Linked DNA regions of Homo sapiens: all the other regions are linked to region 1. Evidence: fine-mapped expression QTL. A gene starts in region 1. Each other region holds a variant in brackets. All regions are shown on one strand. Distances are between the middles of the regions. Region 1 holds the start of LPAR1 (lysophosphatidic acid receptor 1). Region 2 has its middle 120 kb from the start of LPAR1. Region 3 has its middle 110 kb from the start of MIR7702.

What was found.
Region 2: its variant is fine-mapped to the expression of LPAR1 in whole blood (INTERVAL, PIP above 0.99).
Region 3: its variant is fine-mapped to the expression of LPAR1 in monocytes (CEDAR, PIP 0.95).

Annotation. Positions count from the first base shown.
Region 1 is chr9:111,036,889-111,039,648 of GRCh38, forward strand. It overlaps LPAR1 (lysophosphatidic acid receptor 1), which reads right to left and starts at 1,582. Exons shown (of 6, transcript NM_001351411.2): 1 at 1,279-1,582. LOC124902248 (a long non-coding RNA gene) reads left to right here and starts at 40. Exons shown (of 2, transcript XR_007061732.1): 1 at 40-901; 2 at 2,567-2,760. RefSeq lists a silencer at 1,012-1,351.
Region 2 is chr9:111,152,183-111,154,942 of GRCh38, forward strand. No RefSeq gene overlaps it. Among named protein-coding and RNA genes, the nearest start is that of LPAR1, 120 kb to the left of the region's middle. The variant A/C (reference allele first, on the strand shown) is at 1,536.
Region 3 is chr9:111,163,562-111,166,321 of GRCh38, forward strand. No RefSeq gene overlaps it. Among named protein-coding and RNA genes, the nearest start is that of MIR7702, 110 kb to the right of the region's middle. RefSeq lists an enhancer at 1-2,204. The variant T/TA (reference allele first, on the strand shown) is at 1,029.

The DNA of each region.
Region 1 (2,760 bases):
TGGAAATCAAGGGCAGAAAGAACTAGGTGACATTCTACCTCCCTGTGTATTTTAATGATGTTTAGTTTGGTTCAAATAACCATACCTCTAAAATACACCCTTTTTCCTTGGGACCCACTCTTCTATCCGGCAAGGGAATAACTTCTTAAAAAACTTCGCATTTTCCAAGTGTACAGTCTCCCCTTAACCAGAACTGCAGACTCTGAATCACAGACCTCTGGCTTACCAATTATGCTTAGCTGAGCAAACACACTTATGCAAATACGTGAAAAACAAACTGTTAGAGCCTGAAGGAATAGAGGATTTCGCTGTGATCATCAATATGTGATCATCACATTTTCAATATTTATGTTTACCAATATCTATCTAACCCCATAGGAAACGACGCGTCCATAGTGAAACAAGCCAGCACCCACATTTATGAAAAAATCCACGGATTTCAACAAAAATGAAGAGAGGAGAGCAGAAGCGGAGAGCCACAACCTCAGGCCCCAGACAGCAGGCAGCAGCAAGTCCTGAATGCCTTCACTCTTAACATTGCAAAGACCAAATGGCAGCAAAGAAAAACAAGAATAAACTTTAAATCCATTCACCACAAAGGAGTCCTACGCAAGTCAAAGGAGCCGTCGATTTCAAAACCATCAACTTTCAAAGCCAGGTCCCTCCCTTGCCTTACAACCTCCTGTTACTTGTTAAGCACGTTTGTTAGGCGGCTGGACAGAAACTTAGTTAAAAGTCCTCAGCCCGGTGGTGGGGGACAACCGAGTCGTCAGTGGGAAGCGAGAGGTGCGGAGCCCCAGGGGCGCAGGGACCCCTCGGAGGTGCAAGTCCAGCGGGACGAGGTTTTGGGAGAATTTCGAGGGCCCCTCGCAAGCCCTCCCGCGCACCCACCCCGACCCAGGTAACCGGAGGCCACCTACGTGTCACTGGGCGGGCCCCGGGGCGCACTGACCTGGCGCGGGACAGGAGGGCCGGCGGCCCGGGCGGCTGCGGCAACTTCCCTCCAGGGGCTCGGTCCGCCGCTGGGTGCGGGAGGCCAGGGGAGCCTCGCCTCCTGCAGGCCGGCTCGCAAGAACGCACGGCCACCCACCCGCGCCGCGGCCCACAGCGCGCACCCACACTCTCACTGGCACTCGCACGCGCGCCCCCAACCACAAAGCCCGTCCGCGGCGGGACAGTGTGAGCCCAGCGCGCCGTGTGGCGGGCCGAGCAGTCGCCGCGGCCTCTGGCTTCGCGCCCAGGGGGCGCCGTCCCCACACGCCGCGCCGGCCCCCTTACCTGCGCTCGCTGCCGCCGCGCGTCCCTCTCCTGCCGCCCCCGGGCTGGCTTCAGGCCGCGCGCCCAGTCCCGGCGGCCCCCGCCCCACCGCCAGCCGAGCCCGGCCCTCCGCCCGCCCCTCGGCAGTCGCCCAGAGCGGGGCCGCCCCCTGCGCCCACCCCGCCGGGGTCCCGTGCTCGGCCGGGCGGCGGGGAGGGCTCCGCGGCTCCGGGCCCTGGCCGCCCCAGATCCGGCCCGCGCTCCGCAGCGGGGCTGGAGACGGAGTCGCCACTCAGGGAGCGTCAGCCGCCAGTCGGCCCCTACTGCCCGGCTTTGGCGCGCTGGCAGGAGGAGGGGGCGCAGAGGGAGGGCCAGAGGAGCAGCGCCGACGCCAGCCTCCTCTCTTCCTCCGCCTTCCTTCTTTTCTGCTTGTTCCACGTAGCACAAGTCAGCAACACCCGAACCCCCAGAGTCCGCCCTCCCCGCTCCCAAGCTGGACCCCTTACCTGGTGTGGCGCCCCCAGCGCCCCTGACCTCTGCGCCCCCTCCTCCATTCATTGGCTCGACAGCCCACGGTGGTGGCAGGGCCGGGGCTGGGGGGTGGCCTTAGCCTCCCATTCATTATCTCAGCAGCCTCCCCCGCCCCGCCCCCGAGTCGACACACCCGCAGCGGGAGACCCGTGGCCGCCAGCTCGGGTCCCACCCCCGCCCCTCCTGCGCTTACCCCAGCGCCGGACAGCTGGCAGGACTCCGGTGGACGCCCCGGCACGGGGCATTTTCACGTTGTCGCTCTCCTCTTCCCACTCGAAAAGCTCTGGAAAACATCGCGGGGCCCGCAAAACCCCGGAAATGTGGCCTCTCTTTCGTGGCTCACTTTCTAAACTTTCCAGAAGGCGCAAAGTTTCTCCCAGCGCCGCCCTGCACTGGAGGCTGCGAAGAACGCAGAAGCGGCTTTGCTGCTAGGAAGGTGCATACGTTTCTAGTTCTGATTTTTCACTTCACTGGATCTGTAAACGAAAGCAAGTGTGTCTGCTCCCCTAGTTCTCCATATCCACGATTATAAATTTCTCTTCCGCTTTCCCAGTGTAGCTTTGCAAGTGTAAACTATCAATTTTAGTGAGAGTAATTAAGGGCGGGGACTGCACACCTGGAGGTGTGGGTGGGAGCGGCGCGGGACTAAGGCCTAGGGAACATTCTCAGGAGAGTGGCAGCCACAGGGATTCGCCCAGGTCTTATAACACACCCACTCGATGGGGTCTCCCTAGCCACGCCACCTCACAACACCCATCTCCCACTTCTGGCTTCCCAGGATTTCCGGAGTGATCACAATTATCGGCCTCTCGCTCCACAGCTAAGGCCACCGCATATCAAAAATAGCAGCGTGTGAGTAAAAGTTTCATGAGCCCTCGCCTTGAAATGGCACAGAGGACACAGCACACCAGCAGTAAGGCATGGGGACTCGGCAGGACTGATCTGATTGAGAGAAACGCAGGACAGCGAGGC
Region 2 (2,760 bases), 120 kb after region 1:
GACTATTTTCTAACAAAATTTAAATTATAGAATTTTTTATTAAAAATTAAAAATTTATAATTTTCATAATAATTGGTTATTATATCTTCTGTTAGTGAGAAAAATAATTTAAATATCTGACAACAGGGGAATAACTAAAAAAACTGTCCATTCTGTGTAATATAATAATTAAAATATACTTAAAGTAAATGATAACATTAAAAATGTTTGTGTTATAATGTATTAAAATGCACATTTAAGAATATTTCATGGACCTCATGTTATTCTGTTTTCTCATGCTTAAACAAGATGTTCATTCAGACTTTATTTTTGCCTACAATCAGAATATGTAGCTTATTTTCATTCTTCTTCCATTTATTTCCATCCTGATTAAATCTCTATCTCAGAAAGACTAATGCACAGAGACTTTTAGTGTAACTCCAGGCCTCAGACTATAATAGAAAATTCGGTGCAGTCTAAAGATTTATTTTGTTCAGATATACTACCATGGAAGCCTTCCCTGTACCCTCAATATTCTTTTTCTTTCCTGACATGTAACTTCTTTACCTGAAGCAAACACTATGCAACTGTAGTAGTAAGAGGAGGAGGAGAAAGGAGGAGGTAGAGGAGGAAGAAGGAGGCAGAGGAGGAGGAAGGAGGCGGAGGAGGAGGGAGGAGGAGGAAGAGGAAGGAGGAGGAGGAGGAAGTAGGAAGAGAAAGAAGGAGGTGGAGGTGGAGGAGGAGGGAGGAGGAGGAGGAAGGAGGAGGAGGAGGAAGGAGGAGGAAGCAGGAGGAGGAGGAAGGAGGAGGAGGAGGAAGGAGGAGGAGGAAGGAGGAGGAGGAAGGAGGAGGAGGAGGAAGGAGGAGGAAGAAGGAAAGGAAAGGAAAAAGGAAAGAGAGAAAGAAATCTGAGTATCTGATGGGGAATAAAAGTTTGAGAGGGAGGAAAGCATATTTGACACTCTTACAAAAGAATTCACATATATGAGGTCAGGAGGGAAACTGACCTTTTTCTGGCCAGTAAATCTTTTGTTTTTCAGAGTTAAGGCCAGATAGTGGAAAATCAAAATATCTCTCTGCTTTATTTTCCAGCTTGCAGTACTCAATGGCATTAGTAAGGAAGTCTGTATAGGTTATAATCTTTTAGTTTCAATCCAGCCTCTGTGTCATTGCATCTGGTAGAAGTTAGTTCTATTTTCTGAAACATGCTCTCCTATTATCCATAGTTTGCATGATATTTATTAATTTAGTTTTATCTGGTTTTAGGGTCCTTATCTAGTTTTCTATACCATTAAAACTCCAATGGAATACTAGGAAAGGATATATCACACACTGAGTTTTAAAAGCAAATTTGGTAGCACCAACTCTAAGTAAGCATTGTTAAAATAAACAGTTGCCATGATCTGGGAGTGTTTAAAACATTTTGACCTCAGATTACTGCTCTAAATTAGTTGCTGAGAGTATCTGATTGTAAATAGGTTTTTATATTTCTTTGAAAATTCAAAGCATATCACTTTGTTTAATTATATAATTTCTTTTCATAAAAACCTGTTTGC[A/C]GTTCTGCTACTCATATTCATTTCTCCATTTGTCTTCCACTAGACAGATGGTCCCAAGGAGAACTTAATTGAGATGATTGGAGAAGCAGGTAATGTAAAAAGAGAAAAATAATTTTGTTTTTCTTGTGGGTTTAAAATGATGACACCAGCTGAGTTTGATTAATTTGCTTCAAGGACAAAAAGTTCATTGAAAACAGCAGAGATGGCTTCTGGGTGTAGACAAATGGAAATGGCAGCCAACAATGCATTAATACAATTTCAGGTTTATTTACCTACAGAAAGCTCAGAGGTTGGGAACTGCATGCAAAACTGCAAGCCACCAAAAACACCACAGAAAAATGAAACAATGACAGCAGCACACCAAGCGGTTTTCATTAAATATAAAACCATGAGTGCAATTTAATTGGGATTTCCTTCCAGGGCCAGCAATGAGGCCTCTTCCCCTGTCACAGCTGTGTCTTGCTGTGGCTTATGTGTGAACAGCTACATGCTGAGGGTCTTGCAGGCACACTTTACATCAAAGCTTTAAGTCAAGCTACTCCAGTGACTTTAAAGCAATTTAAATAAACACCCATCAGGGGAAAGAGGAAAAGCTGTGGTTGAGAAAAATGCAGTGTTTGGAACAATGAGAAGGGGCAGATATTACAGAGAACCACCTCATCCATCCCACATGACAGGGCCAGGGATGTGACTTTCCCAAGTTTCTCAGAACCAGGCTGTGGTGAACACAGCAATGCATGACCCAGGTCACCTTTCAAGAAAGGACTTGCTGCCCAGCTATGGGGAATGTGGTCATTGGTGAGCCTCCAGCTGACACCTCCTTCAGGGTCAGCCTCAGCTGCCTAGAGTTGCTTTGCCCAAGGTCTTACCCTTCTCAGGGAAACCTCAGATTGGCCATTCAATGACCAAGGAAGAGGGGAGTATAAAGGCTCAGCCATTAGTGTACACAGTATCATTCCGGGTATCACAATAAAATAAAACATAGAAAAATGTATGAAGTTGAGAAATAAAAGTAGAGATTAACTACTACCAGGTGACAGAATTAATACATGAAGCACATTCTATAAAATCCTGTACACTAGATAGCAGTAGGCTACAAATTTGAGCTTAATAAGAGTTGTGGCCAGGCATGGTGGCTCACGTCTGCAATCCCAGCACTTTGGGAGGCTGAGGTGAGTGAATCACTTCACGTCAGGAGTTCAAGACCAGCCTCGCCAACATGATG
Region 3 (2,760 bases), 130 kb after region 1:
TGGAAGACTGGAAAGGCATCTTCAGGTAAGTTCAGTGGATCCTGAACTACTCTGTAGCCTTCATCCAAATCCTGTCCAAAAAGGAAGCTTCAGTACCTTCTGTTTTCATATCAGGCTTGATAAGTGTGTTTTGTCAATTATAATCAAAGGCTGGCCTTGACATTAGAAAATGTTATTTTTCAAACCAAAAAGAACCTGCAAAGCCCGTTCTTTGTTGTACTTCCTCATCCTCCATAATTATGCCCTTTCACCTCCGTTTTTTTTCTTTTTTCTTCTTCTCCTTTTACTGCAGGATTTATAAAATCTCTGAAACTTGTTGTTTGCAGATGTAGGTCCCAAGTGCCCTGTCATTTACTTCCTGTCCAAGCACTGAGCAGATGGAATTACACAAGTTCGGCTGTATGAAACCACCCTCTAATGCCTTCGTTAAACTCCAGGATTTTAGAGTCTGTCCAGTTTCTGGCAGGGACCTTTCCAAACTTCCACCCCCAAAGCTGTAAATTACTACCTCATTAAACTCAATTGTAAATGATTAGGTGTCTGGAATGTACTTTCCTCTCCCTGCAGCCTCCTTGGAGAAATTACTACATTGCAGGCCTCCCTACTTAACTCAACACATTAGTCAAGCAATGCAGGGTTTGAGTAGCTCACTCAGGAGGAGGTTTTATTTTTGTTAGGGTATTAAAACTCTATTATCATTTAGTTCCAAAAGCGGAAGATTTGTGATCTTCCACTTCCCATTGAGCAATCAGTCTTTTAGCAAGAGAAAGCTGTAATCAACAGGACTTTTTCAAGAATTCAGTTTTCCTCCTGCCACACAGGCAGTTGGAACTACAGAACTTTTGTTTTTTCTGAACATCAGTGAGATGATTTAACATTTTTTAAAGGCTGCAATTGCTGCCGTTAATTTCCATAGGTAAAGATCATCTGGGAAATATTTAAACGTTTTTTTGAAACAAAGAGCAACAAAAGGTAACTCAAGTTTTCAATACCTGTTCACCTAATTCTGATTTTTCGATGAAGTTTAA[T/TA]AAAAAAAAAAAAACTTGAAGAATCTGGAAAGGTCATGGGGAAAGGGTTGGAGAGAGAGAAAGGAGAGGAGGGGCTGTCACATTAAATAAATAATCTAGCCTAAGTTCCCAGCCTAGCTGCCATCATTTTAGCAGAAAAGGTAAAACTAATATTCCCCGAGGGACAAAAGCTCAGAAGGTCAGTTCTCTTTCTTATGCAGGCTTTTACCTCTTTATTTAATTCACTGGCTTAGAGTCTTAAGATTTTCATAATGCTTATTTTTGGGCTTCTCTTGCCACTTGTTTCACTATAGATTGACTAGAGTCAATTAGTTGTGCTTCACTGTGTCTCTGGAATATAGGTAAAGATAGTGACTTGCGTGGAGAAAGAAAATGAGGGCTATGAGCAAAATGGTTTTGCTATGATCAAACAAGTAGTAGCAGTACAGTAAGTGTTGAAGTAGAGAGTTCTCACCATCTTTGAAGAAGATTTTCAGAAAGATACAAGGGAATGGAGCATCATTAATTCCTAACTCAGCCTATGAATTTGTTGGTGGGTATTGCAGATGATCATTAAAGAGATTCCTTTATATCTGGGCATGGAAGATAAGGAATGGACTAATAGCTTAGGTATCCATTTTTCTACATTCATTGTATGTGGAACAAGAAATAGTTCAGATGAACATTGCTTGCCAGGGTGCTCTTTAAATGGGATCATTGGGTATAACTATAATTGGGTTAATTGGAATAAGGTATAACTTTGTCTTGGTTCCTGGCCTTGTACCTTGGAATAGATGGGATTTTAGGAAAGAGGTAAAGAAGCTGTTTCCCCAAGGAAACAAAGGCGAATGGTATTACCCAGGTGATAAGGTGTGATACGGAGAAGGGAGAGTACAGGCTCCTCCTTTGTGCCGACAACACAGCACAGCTTTGATTTGGTGAAAACTGATGGAATTGCAGTATCTCTCAGGCAACCTGAGGGTCTGCGGATTTGGAAAATCTTTTAGCATTGTCATCAGTGTTGTCATGGTAGATACCAGGTGCACTGATGCTCAGGAGACTTCATCAATGTCAGACTTTCAGAAGGGTAGGCAGGATGGAAGAATGTGAGCTAAAGAAAAGACACCAAACAACCAAAGATGACTTGGTTATTTGAAAGATTCAAAAATACTTCATTGTAGGCAATTCATTCCTTGACTAAGTTTTAATTCATGTTAAATTTATCACTTAAAAGCCTATTAGAGAGTAGCACCAGCAGAATGGCAGACTAGAAGGTGCCAATCTTCATCTCCCCCACAAAAACAACTAATAACCATATACCAATGAAATTGTGGAGAGAGCTCGGGAGTACAGCAAAGAGGTAGCAGAAACTCAGTGAAGCACAAACACCAAAGATGGCTGTGTAGAAAACACCTTGCTTGCACTACTCCATTCTTCAGTTGGGATCAGCTCAGAGCCAGAAGGGATTTCTTCCAAGGGGAAAAGGTAAGCAGGAGGATCCCAGTGGCCCTCATCACCACGCAGACACCTGCACGCTTCAACACCCTGCAGTTTTTGCCAGTGCTGAGCCCAACTAAGGGAGCCAATGCTGTGCCCCGCCCCTGATTGCCTGGGTAGCCATAGTACCTCTCCATTTCTGGGGTCTTGCTGTTATTTCACCTTACCACCTAAAGCCTGGGACACCCAGCACCCCACTATCCCTGGGCCCAAGTTGCTGGAGAGCAACTCCATCTCTCTGGACTCAAGTCACTGC